2 separate regions of the Homo sapiens genome follow, and region 1 is linked to region 2. Evidence: fine-mapped expression QTL. Tissue or cell type: whole blood. Region 2 holds a variant in brackets; the other region holds the start of a gene. All regions are shown on one strand. Distances are between the middles of the regions.

Region 1 (8,144 bases), 52 kb before region 2:
AACCACAGCTTAAAGGCTTTTTGTATGTCAACTTCTATCACCTAACCACAGCTTAAAGCCTTTTTGTATGTCATTCCTTTTGCCTAGAACACCTATTTGTTAGTTTGCTAGGGGTTCCATAAAAAACTACCACAGACTGGGTGGCTTCAACAACAGAAATTTATTTTTTCACAATACTGGAGTCTGGAAGTCCAAAATCAAGGTGTTGGCAGGTTGGTTTCTCCTGAGGCCTCTCTCCTTGGTCTTCTTGATGAATCCTCACATGGTCTTTCCTTTGTGTGTGCAACTCCTGTGTCTCTTTTTGTGCTCAAATTTCCTTCTTATAAGGAAAACTGTCAGACTGGATTAGAACCCACCCTAACGGCTTCATCTGAACTTAATCACCCCAAAGCCCTGTCTCCAAATACAGTCACATTCTGAGGTTACGGCTGTTAGGGCTTCAATATAATTTTGGGAGGACACAATTCAGCCCATAACAACCCCTTCCCCTTTTCTCTGCCCAGGCTAATTCCCATTTGTTTTCCCAAGACTGGTCCAAGCCTTCCCACTCCAGAGTAACTTCAGTGTTCTTTCTCTGTGCTCCCAAAGTACCTCGGCAAGCTGTGATCCCATTGCTCAACACACTATGTTAATTGTCTCTTTCCTTCTTCAAACTACATTCCTTAAGAGCAAAGACTAAATTCCTAGCATTGGCACAGTGTGTGGCACACAGAAGGTGTTTAATAAAGATTTGATCACTGAAGGAAAATGAAAGAAAGAACAGGAACCTTGAAGTACGACAAGCATGGGTTCAAATCCTGATTCCACAGTTTACTTATCTGTGACTCTGAGCAAGTCATTACATGCTGAACTTCCATTTTAAATAAGGTAGTTGTAAAGACAAATGACTAACTCATAATGAAAGCACCCAGCTGTGGGGCTGGTACACAGTAGGTTCTCAATAAATGTTAGATTACAGATTTTGATCTTGTCTTCTCTGACACTCAGTACTACCATGTAGTAGCTACATGACCTTTGGTATATTTACTATCTTCTCTTTGCTTTAGTTGCCTATCTATAAAAACACCTCAGTGCTATTGTGAGGATAAGTTAATATAGGTAAAACATTATCTAACACATAGTATTACATAAATGTTTCCTATTATTATAAGAACACTGCAGATCTGAACAGATAATGACTCAACTATGAATAATTTAGTTCTTTTAATTACTAAGTCATTTAAATGTGACTATTACCTTTTTGCCTCCTATTTCTTACCAACTAAACAGGATGGTAACTAAAGAGGTTCAAAACTGGTACAGATAATATAATGAGAGCTCACAATAAACATGAAATAAGACATTATCTGTCTCATTCCTTATACTGGTATTTAACATATTTGGGGCACTAAAGCAAAGAAAGTTTCAGTGGAGAATAACACTTCTCTGCTCGTATTTTAATTTTTTTTAGAGATGGCGTCTCACTCTGTCACTCAAGCTGGAGTGCAGTGGTGCCATCATCGCTCAAGGGATCCTTTGATCTCAGCTGGCACTACAGGCACAAACAACCACACCCAGCTATTTTTTATTTTTGGTAGACATGGGGTTTTGCTATGTTGAACAGGCTGGTCTCAAGTCATCCTCCTGCCTCGGGCTCTCAAAGTGCTGAGATTACAGGTGTGAGTCACCACACCCAGCAGGGTCATATTTTTATTTGCAGACTCACAAAACCTGTAAACTGAAAAGAACCTTTTGATAAAAGTCCAGTCTTATAATTTCTTACATAAGTGAGATGGATTTGGAATGGGCTTTTCGGGTCTTACTGAGCAGTTCAGTAAGAAATGGGAATTGTAGGCAGAGAGAATCAGTTTGTTCAAAAGTACTAAAGCAGGGGTTCAGGACTTATTCCAGATGTCCAAGGTGTGTGTTGGAACCAGTCTTAGACAATAACACTAGACAATCCTCTTTAACCACTCAACCTTTAAAGTCTATAATTTCTGAAGTACGTATTAGTTACCTGATCTGTGACTTGGAAGCAAGGCAGATCTAGATTTAAATCTCCCCTTGTTACATAAGCAAGTCTTTGAGCCTCAGATTAGTGTGATAGGTTTGTTAAAGTGATTAAGTGAGCTAAAGTATGAAGAGCTCCCACCTGGGGTGCCTGGCAGATTGCAAATACTAAAATGTTGGTTCTTTTTTTTTTTTTTTTTTTTTGAGACTGAGTTTCACTCTTGTTGCCCAGACTGGAGTGCAATGGCTCGATCTTGGCTCACCGCAACCTCCGCCTCCTGGGTTCAAGCGATTCTCCTGCCTCAGCCTCCTCAGTAGCTGGGACTGCAGGCATGTGCCACCATGCCTGGCTAATTTTTTTTTTTTTTTGAGATGGAGTCTCGCTGTTGCCCAGGCTGGAGTGCAGGGGTGCAATCTTGGCTCACTGCAACCTCTGCCTCCGGGTTCAAGCAATTCTTCTGCCTTAGCCTCCGAGTAGCTGGGACTACAGGCGCGTGCCACCACGCCCGGCTAATTTCTGTATTTTTAGTAGAGACGGGGTTTCACCATATTGGCCAGGCTGGTGTATTTCCTTTCAGTAGAGACGGGTTTCTCCATGTTGGTCAGGCTGTTCTTGAACTCTCCACCTCAGGAGATCTGTCCTCCTTGGCCTCCCAAAGTGCTGGGATTACAGGAGTGAGCCACAGCGCCCGGCCAAATGTTGGTTCTTTCTAACAAACCTCTTCCATCATATGAATAAGTGTGTAAGATAACAAAACACTGTCTTTCACATGGTATGTGCTTGCTAAATGTCTGAGACTTGCTGGACATTACTTAATTTTAAAAATAGAAAACTGGAGCTGGGTGTGGCGGCTCACGTCTGTAATCCCAGCACTTTGGGAGGCCAAAGCGGGTGGATCATGAGGTCAAGAGATCGAGACCATCCTGGCCAACATGGTGAAACCCCATCTCTACTAAAAACACAAAAATTAGCTGGGCGTGGTGGTGCGCGCCTGTAGTCCCAGCTACTCTGCAGGCTGAGGCAGGAGAATCGCTTGAATCCGGGAGGCGGAGGTTGCAGTGAGCCGAGATCACCCCACTGCACTCCAGCCTGGCGACAGAGCGAGACTCTGTCTTAAAAAAAAAAAAGAAAAGAAAGTTGGAATAACTGCTAGGATGATAAAATGTCTTCATCCCTGACCTTTCTCACCTCCAAATGTCCTTCACAATTTGTTTTTAAGTGTCATGTCACCACCATTAACCTGCTATTTGGAGACTACTGTACCTCAGACTTCCAAGTCAACAGCAAAGATCTAAAGGTCGGGAAGATTTACGGAGACCAAGAACTGAAAGTGTTCCTTTTGTTCCTATGGTCCATTCCATCAACTTGATGAATATCCTGTGAAGTTACCTTTTTTTTTTTTTTTTCTGACGTAGAAACAGCAGGTCTAAGCAAAAGGTGCATGAGCAAGAGCAAGTAACATCCCTATTATTATGACGCAGATTTTTTTTTAAGTTGAAATTCAATTTTTGGGCTGCTACTAAAAAGGACATGTGCGAATATCTATTATTTACGCTTCAAACTAAAGTCAGCCGTTTTTCTTTTTCAAGATATGTGGCATCTGGCTCAAAATCAATTGCAAGAAAAGCCCAACTCTATTTGACCCAGAAAGAGCTCTTTCCAATACCCTCTCCTCCCACTTACATCACAGATGGCGACTGAAGCTTAAGGTTTAATGCCCGACCCTAAAGCCACTCATCCTAAAAGACAGGGCTCCAGATGGATGCTGTATGGCAGAGGATAAGGCGCTATGAGAAGCTGCCAAGCCTCAGATGTGCAGCTGGGCTGAATACCGACGCCAGCGCCTAGCGCCCATTACTTTGCACCCACACTTAGGAAACAACCCACGCCTCACCGCGGGACCCGGACCCAGCCCTCCAGCACCCAGCCTCCGGCTCCGACGTCCGCGCGTGACCTCCGGGTACCGGAGGACCTTGGGACGAGGAGGTCCCTCCGCTTTCCGGGGAAGTTGTCAAGGGCAAGTTCGGGTTCTGCGCGGACAGCTTACTCACTGGAGTGGTTCGGCATCCTCTGTCGTCCGCCCGCGCTTCCTCAGGAAGCCCCTAATGCAGCGGCAGCCTGAAAGCAGCAGCCGAAGCTGCTGCCGCTGCTCCCACTGCCAGCAACCGCCCGGGCGTGGCAGGGACAGGCGGGCGACTTCACAACATCATCACTCGGCGACCTCGGTTCTGCGGCGACACCGGGTCAATGGCAGCCCCCACACAATTGGGGAAGCCAAAGGAGAGCCACTCTCCCAGCGGCCTCCACGGCCCCAGCGCAAGACCTGCTGGGAATTGTAGTTTCCTGCCCGCCCCGCCTCAAGCTCGAAGGCCCCGCCTTCTCGCTGCCCAGCCCCGGGGAGGGAGGCGGGGCCGCGACCCCGGCGCGGGTGGGGCGAATGCGTTCCCAGCGGGTAGCCTGGGACTGGTGCAGAGTTCCAAGCCCACGGCCCCGGTCGCGGCCTCGCCGCCCTCCCGCGCCCCGCGCCGGGAGCGGGCCTAGAGCGCTCGCCTCGCCCCTCCGCGAGCAGGGCTCTGGCGCCCGCCCCTGTCCGCACCGCTGGCAGCCTGAAGAGAGTCGCTGGCCGTGGTCGCCGCTAGGGTAAAGACGGGAGGCAGGCCCGGGAAGGGAAGGTGTCGGGGCCGGTGGGGGACGTGTGAGGGAGTGAGCCTTGGTCCGCGCACGCCCGGGAAGCCAGAGGCCAGAACGCGCTAGCCCACCTCCAGCCCGAGCACCGGCGGCTGGCGGGAGCCGTGGCAAGAATGCGGCCCGAGGTGGCGAGCAGCCACTGCGCCAGTGCAGCTCGGGCTCAGCGGGGCCCGGGCCGCGGGTTCGCAGCCCGCCCAGTGGTGCCTGCCGGGTTGGCCGTGCCGGCCGTGCCAGGTGCGCGGGGCCCAGGCCGCCCGGGCGCCCTCTCCCCGCACCCCTCACCTTTGGCCGCGCTCTCGGGCTTGGGGAGTTGCCATATCGAAGACACCCTCAGACCCCAGCTCTATCTGCCGCCTTCTGCAAGTTCGCTGCAAAGTCCCCCATAGCAGGACTAGGAAGGAACCTTTTACAAAATTAAATACTCGAGTGTCGTTTTGTCTTCGGTTTTTCAATTCAACGCTGTGTTTTTCCCTGCTGGGTCTTTGTCAAGTACCTTTTCCCCAAAACTTGATACGGATGTGTAACACGGCGCCTGCTTAGCACGGTGCCTGGCACCCAGTAGGCGCTCAGTAAAGATTTGTTGAACGCATGAGTCACTAAGCTTGGAAAATTCTCCTGAACTGTGCGTCGCTATGATCTTTGTTAAGATTTTATGGGTTCCCAAGATCACTTTGAAAATTACAGTAATTTTAAAGCTCAACAAAGAGTTACATCGGGTCATTTTTGCATTCCCTGTAACAGTGGCCTCTGTTGAATGCCTAAATTAACTCAAAACCCGTGTTCTAGAAGATGCGCCCTTTGGTTTCTACAGAAAGTGTTAATCTTTCAGATCAAAGTCTTCACATGAACCATTCTATTATGGAACAAACTGAAATTACTTATAAAGCTTTATCGTAATTAGCGTTTTGGATACAAGTGTAAGGGACTGCACTGATGTACTTGTGAATACGAAATATAAGTCTCTTAAATATGACTTTTTTTTAAGAAAGGGTTTATATTCATATCTCGTGAAAGAGCATGCCGGAGAAAATTATAATAACAGCAAATCCCCCACCCCCACCCCTTTGCTGGGTGCAGCTGCTGCCTTGACCTCAAAATGTCTTGTAAAATTATCTCTTAATAGTCTGGTGTATCTAAGGCAAAAATCTCTGAGATTAAACCACCCCATAGGGACAACCCTTTTATTACTAACAATTCTTACCAGATTGTGTCTGTTTCTTCTGAGCTTTTCTGAAAAAGAGAAAAAAATAGACAACGTAATGGAGTTTCACATTATTAAGACAAAATCAGTAACAACTTGCTGACATTGAGTGAAAAAAGCAGGATACAAAATCATGATAACCAGAAAATTTGGTTAATCATGACATCCATAACCCTTCTGCTTGTGGGAAGGTCAGCTACAAGTGGCCAGGGTCTTGTCTGCCCTGATTACCAGCGGGTGTCCACAGTGCCTGACCCATGGTAACCACTCATTAAACACTTGTGTAATGATTACTTGGCTGTTAACAGATTAACAGTGTATTGACTATGATGTGTAGTTTCTTCATTTACTTGGATATCTCCTTAGAATAGATCACTCCGGGGAATTTTACTGGGTCAAAAAGTATGAATATTTTCATGGTTATTGAAACATTTGACAACCTGCTTTCCAAATAAACCTTATAGTTTTGTACTGCCATCAGTACATTTGAGTGTACCTTTCAAAGCATAGTTCAAGCTGATACAGTGTTTGCTAATTAGGGGCACTTTGAGATGTAACTCATTTGATTTCATTCACCCTGGAAGGTTGGCAGGGCAGGCATTGCTTTCCTCCTTTTGCAGCACAGCAAACTCCAGTGCTTTAAATTGACGGTAATGAATGGTAGGTGGCTAAATGATCACAGCCTTTCAGGTCCGTCTTCCTCCCAATCTCTACCTTTGGTTCATAGTGAACATCCTGAATAAATTCACCTCTTTCTTTAGCAATAAAATTGGATATTGCTTTATGGTTTTTATGGTTTACAAAATCTTCCCTTTCTCATCCTGCTCACATATTTGTAGATGGGTTCATCAAATTTGGGGAGTTGAAATAATGAAGCACAATTTAGATGAAAGAGATGATGTTGGTTAGATGTAAAGGGATGCTCTGAACCCACAAACTTACAAGATTGCCACCCTTTCTATTAGTAAAGGTCTGGAAACCGTGGATGGTGCTTTTGTATCTCCTTGAATTAATTTCCTAGTCTGTTATTCTGATTCTTTCCCATATTTGCTGGTCAGGGACCCCAAATGATTTAATACGTAATTAATCCAATAAGAAAGGGCTTTGGAAAGTCTCAAAGTTTAGTTGTAATATGTGGAACCATTGAAAATTCTTGGGGTTTATTGTAAGTGACACTGTTTATATCAAAAGTGGGCCAAAAATTGGTTTTCTACATTGCTTTCAAATTTGCTCAGCGTTCTTTAAAAAACAAACAAAAAACAGTATAGAAAAGATAGGGAAGGAGAAATGCAAACATATTGAGGCTTTGGAAATATTCAGGACTTCTTTTTGTTTTCACTCTGCTTCTTGGTTGTGATGTCAGATCACAAATAATGTTCAGTAAAAAATAAATGCTCTTTAAAGATACTTTTCAGGAATGTCTCCTTGTGTCAAGGAGTAGCTGCCTAAATATTGGGTATCAGGGAATAGCTGCCTAAATATTGGATGGGTTTAAGGCAACTGGTTCTTTAAGGAACTTTTATGTGAATCTAAATTATTTTGCTTTTGTTTTTTATAGTAGGATATATCTGCATCTTGAAAGGAAGATAAAACAAAAGCCTTCTTTGGAATAGATGGATTTTTGTCACTTTCTGTGTGAACTAAAGTGATTCAATGTCTCTTTTGGTAAGTTTTTGTAAATATAGATCTGATTTTGTTCTGTCAGAGTAGTTGGATGTTAATGCCAAGCCATAATAAAAGGCATATTCTGATGGGATATTCTTATGCTCTGAGATATTGTTTTGACCTGATTGACTTCTGGACTTGAGAAATGAATTACATTCTCATTGAGTTTTTCTTTCTTTCATAAAGAACTTCTCGTATACTTCAATATGTTCATTATTCTAATCTTTTGTCCCATATCTACTTTTTCTCATAGGTGTTATACTTTGATATGCCACCCACACCAGTTAGCTATGCCTTATCTTTTAAATCTTTCAGAAATTCCTTTTACAAATTTCCATCTGACCAAAAGCAAGCCAAACAGTATTAAAAATAACCCCTTTGACTTAACCGAAATAAAATCATTTGGATCAATGTATATATGAGGTATAGCTGCCAACTGGTTTTCTATTTATATTTAGATCCGTGGTATCTACTTTAGATTAAGTAGCTTGAGGACTTTCATCCTGTTTTATACATAATAATAATATTTGAATAGGGAATACTTATATTAAAATGTGGTTTTTAAAAAAGTAATGAGTAGACCACGTGTAGTGGCTCACA
Region 2 (8,000 bases):
ATGACCAGTTGCAGTGGCTCACACCTGTAATCCCAGCACTTTGGGAGGCTGAGGCAGGTGGCTCACTTGAGTCCAGGAGTTTGAGATCAGCCTGAGCAACATGGAAAAACCTTGTCTCTACAAAAAATACAAAAAATTAGCCAGGTGTGGTGGTGCAGCCTATGGTCCCAGCTACTCAGGAGGCTGAGGTGGGGGATCACTTGAGCCTGGGAGTGGGAGGTTGCAGTGAGCTATGATCATACCACTACACTATAGCCTGTGCAACAGAGTGAGACCCTGTCTAAAAAAAATTATATATATATATAATTTATATATTAATATATATTGAGTATATAATATATATAATTTATATATGATATATATATATCCAATCACTTTTTCCCATCAACCCCCCTACTACTATAGAACAAGCCACCATCATGTTTCCCCAAGCAGTGGTATCCTAAGTAGTCTCTTGATTCCTGTGACAGAAAATGCTAGTTGCCTTCCTAAAATGTATTATCTCAAGAACTTACATTTTTTTAAGGGGCAGAAATGTCCCCTATCAAAAGAGCTACATCTTCTAGCCTCCTTTGCAGACAGGAGTGGCCATGTGACAAAATTTTGGCCAACTAGACATAATTGGAAGTTGTTGAGAGAGTATCTTAACTCTCTCTTCTGAGTGTCTTAAAACAGAGGCCGACAGTCAGGTGCAGTGGCTCACACCTGTAATCTCAGTACTTTGGGAGGCCGAGGTGGGTAGATCACGAGGTCAGGAGATCGAGACCATCCTGGCTAACACGGTGAAACCCTGTCTCTACTAAAAATACAAAAAATTAGCCGGGCATGGTGGCACGCGCCTGTGGTTCCAGCTACTTGGGAGGCTGAGGCAGGAGAATCACTTGAACCCGGGAGGTGGAGGTTGCAGTGAGCCAAGATTGCATCACTGCACTCCAGCCTGAGTGACAGAGTGAGACTCTGTTTCAAAATAAAAACAAAAAATAAAAAACAAAACAAAAACACAGAGGCCGACTTAGGTGATAAGTATGTAACTGAACTTGTCTTTTTCTTTCTTCCTGCCTGGAATACATGTGATGCCTGGAGATATAAAGTCCATCTGGTGTTACCCTTCAGTAACATGCTCATGCTGAAGATGGCTGTCCATAAAGAAAAGGAATCTGGGCCCCTGATGACGTCATGAAACCACAATATTACGATTTAAGGCACTGTTTCTAAGTTTTTGTTACTCATGCTTAACATGTTACTCATGATTAACTCATGTTAAATCATGTTTAACATGATTCTTAACTGAAAAACTTCTACACATACTGAAATTTATTCTTTTACAGTAGAATAAAGCTAGAAATCAGTAATAGAAGAAAATTAGAAAATTCACAAACATTTGGAAATTAAACAAAAAATTCTTTAAAAACCAATGGGTCACAGAAGAAATTACAAGAAAAATTAGGAACTACCTTGAGACAAATGAAAACACAACATACCAAAACTTATGGGACACAGAAAAATCGATGCTAAGGGGAGAAATTTATGGCTATAAGCATTTACACTAAAAAAGAGAAAGATCTCAGGCCGGGCATGGTGGCTTATGCCTGTAATCCCAGCACTTTGGGAGGCCAAAGTGGGCGGATCACCTGAGATCGGGAGTTCGAGACTAGCCTGACCAACATGGAGAAACCCCGTCTCTACTAAAAATACAAAATTAGCTGGGCATGGTGGTACATGCCTGTAATCCTAGCTACTCAGGAGGCTGAGGCAGAATTGCTTGAACCCAGGAGGTGGAGGTTGCAGTGAGCCAAGATCACGCCATTGCACTCTAGCCTGGGCAACAAGAGCGAAACTCCATCTCAAAAAAAAAAAAAAAAAAAAAAAAGAAAGATCTCAAATTAACAACTTAACTTTATGTTAAGGAACTATGTATACATTCCTTAATGCATACATTAGAATAAGAGCAGCAAACTAAACCTAAAGTTAAAAGAAGGAAGGAAACAATAAAGATTAGAGTGGAGGTAAATAAAATAGAGAATAGAAACACGATAGAGAATATCAGTGAAACCAAAAGATGGTTCTTTGTAAAGGTCAACAAAATTTACAAACCTTTATAGCTAAATTGATTAAGAAAAAAAGAAAGACTCAAACTATTAAGATCAGAAATGGAAGTGGGATATTATTACTGATTTTACAGAAACCAAAAGGATTATAAGAATACTATGAACATTTGTACACCAACAAGTTGGATAACTTAGATGAAATAAACACATCTCTTAAAAAAGCCAAACTACCAAAACTGACACAAGTAGAAATAGACAATTTGAATAGACTTATAAGTGAAGAAATTAGATTTAATCTCTTGACCCAGTTATCTGTGGATTTTTAGTCCCCAGATAGCTTTTATGAATACTGCTCACTGCTTTTCCTGCCCTCATTCCATGTTATGTGAGATAGAGACAAGCAAGTCCATCCTTCAGGTATCCTCCAGCCAGCTTAGAACGGACATATACAATAATTTGCAAATAAAACTATGTTCCCTCCAGTTCCATAAAGGGAATTGGGAACTAGGCTTCTGCTGCTCAAGACCAACAGTGCTGCTGTACTTAGGAGCAGATGAAAGGGTGAATACAAACTCCAAAAAACGTTTCTACTGTTTTGAACATGAATTCTAGGTGAACAGGTTTCATTTTCTTTCATTACTATAAAGATGTCACTCCATAGTCTTCTGCCTTTCATAGTCTAATAAGAAGTCTGGGCCGGGTGCAGTGGCTCATGCCTGTAATCCCAGCACTTTGGGAGGCCGACATGGGAGGATCACGAGGTCAGGAGTTTGAGACCAGCCTGACCAACATGATGAAACCCCGTCTCTACTAAAAATACAAAAATTAGCTGGGTGTCATGGCACACGCCTGTAATCCCAGCTACTCAGGAGGCTGAGGCAGGAGAATCTCTTCAACCTGGGAGGTGGAGGTTGTGGTGAGCCAAGATCGTGCCACTGCACTCCAGCCTAGGCGACAGAGTAAGACTCCATCTCAAAAAAAAAAAAAAAAAAAAGTCTGTTTTTATTTGTTCCTCTGTAAATATTTCTTATTTAAATCTGTAAATAATGTGCCTTTTGCCCCTCTGAGTAAAGGTTTCTCTTTATCATTGATTCTTAGTAATGTGATTATTAGCATGGTTTTCTTTAGGTTCATTCCCTTGGAATCTATTGAGCTTCTCAGATATGTGGGTTTATAGTTTTCATCAAACTTAAAAATATTTTGACCATTTTCTTCAAATCATTTTTCAGTTCCCCTCCCAGACTCCAGTTACATGTGTGTTATACCACTTTGTATTTTCACATGTTAGTGATACTGTGTTGTTTTTTTTTTCTATTTGTGTTTCATTTTTGTGTAGCTCCTAATCCTCTGTCTTCAGGTTCAGTGATCTTATCTTCTGCAGCATCTAATATGTTGTTAATCTCTTAAAGGTTACTATTTCAGATATTTTTTATCTCTAAAAATTCCTTTGGGGTTAATTATACCCTCTATTTTTTTCCTCATCATACTCACGTTTCCTCTACCTTCTTGAACGTATGAACTATATTTATAATGGCTCTCTTAACATTCTGTTCTATCATTGATGTCATTTCAGGATCTTTTTCTATTATTTGATTTTTCCCTACATAATGAGTCATATTTTATTGCTTTTTTATATGCCCAGTATTTTTTAAAAATACATTTTATTATTTCATTGTTTAGACACTAGGTCTCACTATGTTGCTCAGTCTGGATTCAAACCCCAGGGCTCAAATGATCTTCCTGCTTGAGCCTCCTGAGTAGCTGGGACTTCAGGCACACATTGCTGGTATACCTGGTAATTTTAAAATTTAACTTAAGAGACAGAGTCTCACTCTGTTGCCCAAGTGGGAGTGCAGTTGCAAAATCAGCTCACTGTAGCCTCTAACTCCTGGGCTCAAGTGATCCTACTGCCTCAGCCTTCTGAGTAGCTGGAACTATAGGGGGGCACCACCACACCTGGCTAATTTTAAAAATTTATTTTGTAGACACAGGGTCTTGCTTTGTTACCCAGGCTGGTCTTGAATTCCTGACCTTAAGCAATCCTCCTACCTCAGCCTCCCAAAGTCCTGGGATTGCAGGTGTGAGCCACTGTGCCTGGCCGAACACCTGGTAACATTGTATTGAATGTTAGGAATTGTGGATTTTATGTTGTTGATTGATAAATTTTTTTTTCTTTCTTTTAAATCGTTTTGA[A/T]TTTGCTCTTATGCACATTTAAATTACTTGGAATTAGTTGGGTTCTTTTAAGATTTATTGCATAGAAGGTTGTCTAGAGAAACTTTTAGTGGAGCTTTAGAAGGGGCTGATTTAGCCTCTCTACAAAGGTGATACCCTTCTAAGGATTCTACTTACTCTCATGTGTTATGAGTCTTTCCACTCTGGCTGATGAGAATATGGAATTATTGGAAGTCCTGTGTGAGTACCTATAATTTTCTACCTTATCTTTCCAGTGGTTCTTTTCCTTGCTTTCAGTAATTTTCTGCTTAGATCAGTATTCAGCCAAAGACTCCAGAGGAACTTCTTTACAGTTATCTGGAGCTTTCTTGCTGCTGTAGTTTTTTCTCTTCTGGTACCCTACCAGTTCGCCTCTGTCTGCTAAATTTCAGACTCTATCTCCTCAACCCAATGAGATCTCCAAGTTCTGTTTGGCTTCCCGCTCCTGTGCTGCTGCCTTCAGGCAGTAAACTAGTACAATTATAAGGCTCACTTTGTCCCTGTAGTGAACTCTTCAATTTTATGTTGCCTTGACATCCATTTTGAATACAAGTTTAAATTTCTCATACCAGAAATAGAGCTTGGTCACTCTTGACACAGTTTTCAATTCTATACCATGCCCAAATAGCTCAAGATGGCGGCCAGAGATTAGAACTCAGAGGCATCTCTCCTACCTGGCAGACTGAGTTCCCTGCTTTCGCACCACTTCCTTTAAATGGACCATTCAGGAATTTACCCACAAACTTAAAGTGACCCATGCCCTATTCTCTGTCACATGCTCTTCTCTCTCTCTCTGTCTGACTTTTCATTCCTGCTTCTCATGACCCAGGGACTGACGGACTGCCCTCCTGACTCACTGTGCCCTCCTTGCCCAGGATCTATAAGTAAAAAATCTTTGAACTTGTTTCCTATTGTGGTGGTATGCAAAATTTGCACCTTCCATCTGAAGAACTAGGGGCTATTCCATGCCAGGTTTTCCCTGGGATGCTGGAGGGAACATAAGGTAAGGTTCCTAGTGCCAGTGTACTGGTCAGGAGAAATAAAGTGGACACAAGTCAGAGAAGAGATAAAGGGCATCTGCTAGTATAAACAAGTTTCCTGTGTAAAGGACCCCCTGGTCTCAGATTACTAGGCATTAGGCCATCTGCCAGGTAAAAGAAATATTCTGTGAAGGCACACTGTAAACACCCATATCCAGTTCTCCTTCATTTCCTGCTAGGGTAGGGTTACTAGTCACCCTGGTACTGGAACACCAATTTAGCTGGGGGCTCCCCAAATGGTTCACTTTTTTTTTTGTTTTGTTTTGTTTGAGATGAAGTATCTCTCTGTTGCCCAGGCTGGAGTGCAGTGGCACAATCTCAGTTCACTGCAACCTCCACCCCCTGGGTTCAAGTGATTCTTGTAGTTGTAACTACAGGTGCACACCATCATGTCTGGCTAATTTTTGTATTTTTAGTAGAGGAGGTTTCACCACGTTGGCCAGGCTGGTCTCGAACTCCTGACCTCAAGTGATCTGCCCACCTCGGCCTCCCAAAGTGCTGGGATTACAGGTGTGAGCCACTGCACCCGGCCCCCAGAAGGTTCACTTTTCTAAGCAATCAGTCATATGCTGCCTTTTTCCCTAGTGTCATCCTGTGCTATCATCAATCTCTGATAGGATGCACTGAGAAGGGCACTTCACCACTGATGTATTTTTTCCAAAAACTCAGAATGCAAACATAATAATGGAAAAAACATCAGACAAACACAGATTGGGGACATTCTGCAGGATACCTGGCTAGTGCTCATCAAGATTGTCAAAGTCATGTTAAAAACAACAACAACAACAACAAAACAAGGAAAATCAGAAAAACTGTCAAAAACCAGAGGAAACTGGAGAGTCATGACAACAAAATGCAATGTAGTACTCTGTACTGAATCTTGAGACACAAAGAGTATATTAATGGAAAAATTGGACAAATTCAGTCTGGATTTAGGTAATAGTAACGTACTAATGTTGGTTTCTTAGTTTTGGCAAATGTACTATGGTAATGTAAGATGTTAACAATGGAAGAAAGTGGATGAGGGGTATATAGGAACTCTCTAATATCTTTACAAGTGTTCTGTAAATCTACAGTTATTCCAAAATTAAAAGGTTATTTTAAAAAACTAATCTACTTATAAAAAAGCACAAAGCCGGCCGGGCGCAGTGGCTCACACCTGTAATCCGAGCACTTTGGGAGGCCGAGGCTGGTGGATCACAAGGTCAGGAGATCGAGACCATCCTGGCTAACATGGTGAAACCCCGTCTCTACTAAAAATACAAAAAATTAGCTGGGGGCGGTGGCAGGCGCCTGTAGTCCCAGCTACTCGGGAGGCTGAGGCAGGAGAATGGCGCGAACCCGGGAGGCGGAGGTTGCAGTGAGCCGAGATTGCGCCACTGCACTCCAGCCTGGGCGACAGAGCGAGACTCCGTCTCAAAAACAAACAAACAAACAAACAAACAAAACACCAAGTCAACATTTACAGATAAATGATGCCAAATTTTTAGGTCAATCTCATTATGAATAGATGTACAAAATTCCTAAATAAGTTATAGCAAATTCTGTGTAGTATAACCCAGGAGGAATTATATGGGAATACAAAGATGGTTCAACATTAGAAAATCTATTCATGTAATTCATTATATAAACAAATTATAAGAGACAAATTGTGTAATTTCCTCCACAGGGGTCAGCATTTGATAAAAATTAACCCCATTCTTTTTCATTTTGTTTTGTTTTTGAGACGGAGTCTTGCTCTGTCATCCAGACTGGAGTGCACTGGCCTGACCTCGGCTCACTGCAACCTCTGCCTTCTGGGTTCAAGCGATTCTCCTGCCTCAGCCTCCCGAGTAGCTGGGACTACAGGTGCCTGCCACCATGCCTGGCTAATTTTTTGTATTTTTAGTAGAGATGTGGTTTCACCGTGTTAGCCGGGATGGTCTCGATCTCCTGATGTCGTGATCCCCCTGTCCCAGCTTCCCAAAGTTTAGGGATTACAGGCGTGAGCCACCGCGCCCAGCCCAATCAACCTTATTCTTGATTTTCAAATAAATCTTCTAACAAACTAGGAATAGGATTAAAAAAGTGCTTTCCTACCTCATGCATTGCACTTAAAATTGAGACACTAATAGAATATTCATCAGAATCTGTAACAAGAATGCCTTTTCTTACTGCTGCTGTCCAATACTGCTTAATAGTTTAGCCAAGATTAGAAAAAGAAACAACAGGTAGAAATATTAGAAGTCAGGAAACAAAACTGTGCTTAATGGATGACATGATCACTTATCTTTAAAAAAATTCAAGAGAACTGAAAAATTAAGAATAACAGAGTTTAGCAAAGTGAACCAATATAAAATCAACATACAAATATATACACGGTATTATATAACACTATGTCCAAATATTGCCTGAAAAATATAATCTTAAAAAGATCCCATTCACGTTTACATCAGAAACTATCCAATACTAAAGAATCAATCTAATAAGAAATGAACAGGAGCTATGAAATATTAATAAAGAAAATAGAGGTTACTGAATTTTCCTGGATGCAAATTTTGTAAATATATCAAACTATACCAATCTATAATTCAATGCAACCCCAATTAAAATCTCAGAGTTATAGAACTTGCCAAGATGATTCTAATACTTCATCAATAAGAATTTATAAGAATTACCAAGAAAATGATGAAAAAGCAGATATGTGTGTTCCCTGCCAATA

What was found. PIP is the estimated chance that this variant, and not a neighbour inherited with it, causes the effect.
Region 1: it holds the start of STRADB, and the variant in region 2 is fine-mapped to the expression of STRADB in whole blood (TOPMed, PIP above 0.99).

The regions. Positions count from the first base shown.
Region 1 is chr2:201,447,309-201,455,452 of GRCh38, forward strand. STRADB (STE20 related adaptor beta) reads left to right here and starts at 4,432. Exons shown (of 12, transcript NM_018571.6): 1 at 4,432-4,630; 2 at 7,438-7,544. The coding sequence starts at 7,533. TRAK2 (trafficking kinesin protein 2) reads right to left here and starts at 4,150. Exons shown (of 16, transcript NM_015049.3): 1 at 4,042-4,150. RefSeq lists enhancers at 3,505-4,359, 3,763-4,292 and a silencer at 4,323-5,002.
Region 2 is chr2:201,499,550-201,507,549 of GRCh38, forward strand. The region is part of intron 13 of CATSPERT (catsper channel auxiliary subunit tau); the gene reads right to left. It overlaps LOC124906113 (a long non-coding RNA gene), which reads left to right. Exons shown (of 2, transcript XR_007088052.1): 2 at 1,084-3,139. Among named protein-coding and RNA genes, the nearest start is that of STRADB, 52 kb to the left of the region's middle. The variant A/T (reference allele first, on the strand shown) is at 4,242.